2 separate regions of the Homo sapiens genome follow, and region 1 is linked to region 2. Evidence: fine-mapped QTL for protein levels in blood plasma. Region 2 holds a variant in brackets. A gene starts in the other region. All regions are shown on their forward strands. Region 1 holds the start of REG3A (regenerating family member 3 alpha). Region 2 holds the start of RESF1 (retroelement silencing factor 1).

What was found. PIP is the chance, under the fine-mapping model, that this variant and not a neighbour inherited with it causes the effect. The UK Biobank Pharma Proteomics Project read protein levels with antibody pairs (Olink). The fine-mapping took linkage between variants from a reference panel, not from the people measured, so its PIPs are less certain.
Region 1: REG3A starts here. The variant in region 2 is fine-mapped to the plasma level of the REG3A protein (UK Biobank, PIP above 0.99).

What each region holds. Positions count from the first base shown.
Region 1 is chr2:79,158,090-79,160,995 of GRCh38, forward strand. It overlaps REG3A (regenerating family member 3 alpha), which reads right to left and starts at 1,664. Exons shown (of 6, transcript NM_002580.3): 1 at 1,639-1,664; 2 at 1,241-1,350; 3 at 562-680; 4 at 237-374. The coding sequence starts at 1,316.
Region 2 is chr12:31,957,218-31,960,123 of GRCh38, forward strand. It overlaps RESF1 (retroelement silencing factor 1), which reads left to right and starts at 2,198. Exons shown (of 6, transcript NM_018169.4): 1 at 2,198-2,274. LOC105369725 (a long non-coding RNA gene) reads right to left here and starts at 2,087. Exons shown (of 2, transcript XR_931503.2): 1 at 1,911-2,087; 2 at 1,276-1,587. RefSeq lists enhancers at 1-319, 323-1,116 and a silencer at 2,169-2,508. The variant CTT/C (reference allele first, on the strand shown) is at 1,754.

The sequences.
Region 1 (2,906 bases), not on the chromosome of region 2:
GAGAATTATGTAATACGCCTGAGGAAGGCAGATTGATTTTATCTGAAAGATAGAGACCTCCACAGAACTCAGATCTTCAGATGCTTCATGGCCTTCCCTTTCCCCCCAAATATTCCCCAGAATCTGAGCTCCAGTGCTCCCTGAAGTACTTCCTGGGCAGGCACAGGGGACAGGGAGTGGGCCTGGGCAACAATAGCACCTTGAGAGGTAACAGAGAGGGGAGGATATACTGGCACCTGTGTGGGGTCATGGAGCCCAATCCAGACGTATGAGTAGCTGTTACCAATGCTCTTCACCAGGGAGGACACGAAGGATCCCTCAGCCCCACTGAGCACAGACACCAGGTTTCCAGAGGGCCGCTTCTGGCAGGCCAGCTTTGAGGGCAACAAAGAGAATGAGAGGGAGCCTGAGACCTGCTGAGGGAGGGCAGGGCAAAGGTAGGTGGGAGGAGGACTGTGTGAAAGATAAACGTGTTCATCCTCATTCCCAAGGAACTCTCCTGAATGGAGACCCTCCTCCCCCTGAGACCGGTCACCTCCAACACCACATCTAACCACTCACATCTGCATCTGTCCAGGATTTTGGTGACAAAAACAAGGCATAGCAGTGGGAGCCATAGGCCTTGGAGCCTTTGGGACAGCGGATCCGTGCAGAGGGCAGTTCCCTCTGGGGTTCTTCACCTGAGGTGGAAGAAGAGGGGGGAGGGTAAAATGAAGAGTGGGGCTTGGGGTGGGAGATGACCTTGGGGAATACCTAGGAATGTCCTTGGGGAGGAAGACCACATTCCTGACACCCCTTCATCTTCCCTTATGTTTTCAGAAATTCTTTATCTCAAAATAGCCGTAGTAAATGGAGCACCATCCAGTCTCTTATTACCCTTTCCCCTTATTCAACCATTCAATACTCTCCTCACTCTGGGCTGTCTCTACATTGGGTCCTCCAATCATTGTCCCTCCCCACATCTCATTACTGACCCTCCAGTGTATATTAGAGTCCACTTTCCCACCAGTGTATATTAGAGTCCACTGACTAAATGGAAGCCATCTCATTCCACTGTTAGTGGACCACCATGGAGCCTCCCACTGCAAGTTAACCTGAAGGAAGGAGAGATGATGCAAGAACTGCAGGCAGGTTCATTAGACACCACGTCATTACCTCACATGACACACAGGAGCCTTCCTCCTCTTGTTAGCTCTGAGGATTCATAGGGAACCCAGTGCTAGAGGCAAAGCAATCTCACCTTGAACCTGAGACAGCAGCATGAGGCAGGAAAGCAGCATCCAAGATACACTGGGCAGGGCCATGGGAGGCAGCATAGTGTCTGCGACTTGAGGAGGCAATCAGGAGTCACTAAAGAAAGCGTGGTCAGTGGGAGAACACACAGATACCCCACTGCCTCATGTCATTTTCCTTCTCTAGTCCCCTAGGACTAAAGTGATCTTGGTCACATCCATCATCTTCTACAGTTCTGAATGAGTTGTGAATCTGTGTACTCTCCCATCCCCGAGCCCTCCCAGGACACCCTTGCTGAGTCTCAGAGTTCCTGTGCTCCCTGAGGAAGGGACCCTCCCATGTATTCTCCTGTGTCATGTGCAGTAGCTCCTCCCTGGGTCTCATCTTCTCTCAGCTCCCACTTACCTCTCTGGTGGGATATGGTATGGTTTGTCTGGTCAGGAAAGAGTGGGATTTTATAAGAGGATCTGGGGGAGGGACATTGGAGTGAAGAGTGACAATGAGTAGGCAGGACAGGGGTCATGGGGTGGGGTTGGCATGGACTCTTCCTGGCAAAGACTGGGGATTTTCCCAGATGTTGCCTCTTTCCTGTTGGCAGGCCAACACTTTCCCTAGGAAGAGGTGAAGTTTGCTTTTTCCTCTGCATCCTCCTTGTCAAAGGCCTGTGGCACCAAATGTGATATGAAATCTTCTAATGTGGACATCTGAAAGAGGAGTTCCTCTGGTGGGTTTCTTAAGAACCCACTTCTGGAGGCAAACCTATGTATTTCTTATTACCTTGCCTAGTAAGATTAAATAAATGTTAGGTGTTAAGTGAAGATTTACGGGAATTATAAGTATCATGGACAGTTGAGGACATAGATGGTACTGAAGCTAAGAGTAGGAGTGAGGGTTCAGGGCCATTATGCAAGCATGATAGCTAATTTTGATGAAACTTCAGAATTGTCTGACAAGTCAATACATGAGCCACAATCTTACAGAAAATCAGGTGAATGGACTTGTCTTTCCAGTCTTCAGCAAGAAAGAGCTTCCCCAGTGGAGAATGACAATGGCAATGTGATAGAATAAGAGGTAATGAAGGAAAACAAGACATAAGAAGGACTACAGTCAAATAATGAGGATCAAAGAAGAATGAATAATAGTTAAAGAAGGGAAGAGCAGCCATTGTGTAAAATCATAGGTCAGTTGGCCAGGTGCTGTGGCTCAGGTCTATAATCCCAGCACTTTGAGAGGCTGAGGTGGGAGGATCACCTGAAGCAAGGAGTTCAAGAGCAGCCTGGGCAACACATTAAGACCCTATCTCTACAATTTATATTTTAATTTAAGCCAGTTGCGGTGGTGTGTGCTTGTGGTCCTAGCTACTCAGCAGGCTGAGGTAGGAGGACCTTCAGTTGAACCCAGGAGTTCAAGGCTGCAGTAAGTTATGATCATCCCACTGCACTCCAGCTTAGGCAACAGAGTGAGAGCCTATCTCTAAATTTTTGTTTTGTGATGTTGTAAACATAATTCTGAATTGCATGTAAGTCTCTATTACATCAAAATGCTCACTACTTGTAGGTTGCTCATGAGCTTCCTTGCTGGACTGCCATTTGGCTGTACATTAAAAGCCCTTTTCATTGCATTCTTACTGGGCAAATGGTCAGCTTCATATGGGTATACTGGGAGAAGTTCTT
Region 2 (2,906 bases):
CCTGGGTTTAAGCAATTCTCCCGCCTCAGCCTCCCGAGTAGCTGAGAATTACAGGTGCCCACAACCACGCCTGGCTAATTTTTATATTTTTAGTAGAAACAGGGTTTCACCATGTTGGTCACGTTGGTCTCAAACTCCTGATTTCAAGTGATTCACCCACCTCAGCCTCCCAAACTGTCAGGCCTCTGAGCCCAAGCTAAGCCATCATATCCCCTGTGACCTGCACGTATACATCCAGATGGCCTGAAGCAACTGAAGATCCACAAAAGAAGCGAAAATAGCCTTAACTGATGACATTCCACCATTGTGATTTGTTTCTGCCCCATCCTAACAGATCAATGTATTTTGTAATCTCCCCCACCCTTAAGAAGGTTCTTTGTAATTCTCCCCACCCTTAAGAAGGTTCTTTGTAATCTCCCCCACCCTTAAGAAGGTTCTTTGTAATTCTCCCCACCCTTGAGAATGTACTTTGTGAGATCCACCCCCTGCCCGCAAAACATTGTTCCGCGGAGCCTCTCCCAAAACCTATAAGAATTAAAGATAATCCCACCACCCTTTGCTGACTCTCTTTTCGGACTCAGCCCGCCTGCACCCAGGTGAAATAAACAGTCTTGTTGCTCACGCAAAGCTTGTTTGGTGGTCTCTTCACACGGATGCGCGTGACACAAAGTGCTGGGGTTACAGGCCTGAGCCACCACACCTGGCCACCCCCAATCTTTAAGAATATTCTGGCCGGGCGCGGTGGCTCATGCCTGTAATCCCAGCACTTTGGGAGGCTAAGGCGGGCGGATCAAGAGGTCAGGAGATCGAGACCATCCTGGCTAACATGGTGAAACCCCGTCTCTACTAAAATACAAAAAATTAGCCGGGCATGGTGGCGGGCGCCTGTAGTCCCAGCTACTTGGGAGGCTGAGGCAGCAGAATGGCGTGAACCTGGGAGGCGGAGCTTGCAGTGAGCCGAGATCGTGCCACTGCACTCCAGCCTGGGCGACAGAGCGTGACTCCGTCCCCCCCCCAAAAAAGAAAGAATATTCTGTATGTAGTTTTTTTGTTTTGTTTCTGACAGACGCAAACGCACTCTTCTAGTAATGACTAAAGACTTCTTCGTTTAATTCACCAATGAACTAATCTGACAATTTATGTAACAAATAAATTCCTATAAACATAAGCTCCCTTGCCCCTCTCCAGTGGCACAATCTCTGATTTGCCATCCTGGTTGCAACCTTCATTACTAAGTAAACGCTTACGTAAACCTTAATAATGAGATTCGGGCAATATGATTAAATATTGGTTTATTTGAGTGCAAAGTTTGAGGATGGCGACCCGGTAGGACACAGACTCCAAAAGATGGGGGTCAGTGCTTCGAAAGGGAGAAGTTTGAGGGTCGTTTACACAGGCAGGGTCTGGGAAGCTTAACAGGATGTCAACATTTTCCATAGAAGGTTAACGCATAGCAATTTGATTGGTTCAAGGCAGTGTTTCTTTTTGGGAAGGGTCTATTTAACATTCCACATTAAGGATGTAATAGTCAAGCGGTCATTTATCTTATTCAATGCGTATTTTATCTCAGATGCCATCTGGTCTGAGCTGGGAACAAGAAAATAAGGGAGTTAATCTATAACAAAAGGTCGGCAATTAAGAGGTCGTGCTTCGTGATCTGGTCTCCAAAGTCAACTTTCCTCAGGGACTTTCAGAATCCCCAAATAGACTATCCACTTTCTTTCACACTTATTTGCCTCTAACTTGTTGATTT[CTT/C]TTTTTTTTTTCTGTTTTTTAAGGGTTAACAATCTCTTGGGTGCACTCTGACTTCCATGCGCTTTATAGAAAAAATTGGTCCTGAGGCCAGCAGCAACAGTCGGTCTCAGGAACTTGTTAGAAATGCACATTTTTCAGCCCCACCCCAAACCTACTGAATCAGCAGTTTTGCTGGTGGTTCTCAATCTCTCTTTAACGTGCCCTCTGGGTGCTGCGGATGCACGCTGAAGGTAGAAGATCGCTGCAGGAGATTTCCGCGTCGGGCAGATGAAAGCGCTCTGCAAGCCCGGGTGTTATCTGCGGGCCGGGTCCGCGGCTTCTCTGGTGGCACTAGGACCGCGGCGGCGCGGCCCTCGCAGCCACCGCCTCGGGCGTGAGGCGGAGCGTAGCTGTTCCTGGATCCTGGGCCTGGCTCCTCGACCCGCCCCTGGAGGCGGACCCCACTTGACTTAAACTCTGGGGCCCGGGAGGCCGCCGGTTTTCTCCCCGCTTGCCGGGGTGGTCCTCTTCCCTTTGTCGGTAAGTGTGAGACGAGCACCCCGAGGTCCCTCCGCCTTCCGGGGTCCGGGCGGGGCGGGGGCCGGGAGCCGGGAGCCAGAGGCACTCGCGGTCCGGGCCTGCGCGCGGCGCAGAGCGCTTTTGTTCTGCGGCAAAGACGCAGTCGCGGGCGGCCCCGGAACCCGGGCCTCGGGCCCCGCCGGCTCGCGCGTCCCGCCGTCCGCCCACCGGAGCTGGGCCGGGCCGCCGCGCTTGCTTCTGCCCGCCGCACCGGGGCCGGCCCTGGGCCTCCGCGGATGCCGAGCCTTGCACCGGAGGGCGGGCCTCGCTGGCTGTTTTCCCTCATTGCCTGGCTCTGCGCGGTAGAGGTCGCGAGTGGCGAAGGCTAGGACGCATTTTGTCGAACTGCGAGGCGCGGCTGGTGAGGCGGGTGGGTATGAGAGCTGCTTATGTTTTTAAGGCTTTCCTGTCGCTGGAGTGAAAAAGAAAAATCTTTTTTTTTTTTTGCTATTTCCCGAGGGTTCTCCTCCTCCCCGGCCCTCTTAAGCCGAAGCCTCCTGGAACAGAATTGCTGTACTGGCATCTATCTCCAAGTGGTCCGCGAACGCTTCTGCGCCGGCGATGGTTTCTGTTCCTCAGCAATAGTTCCTTGA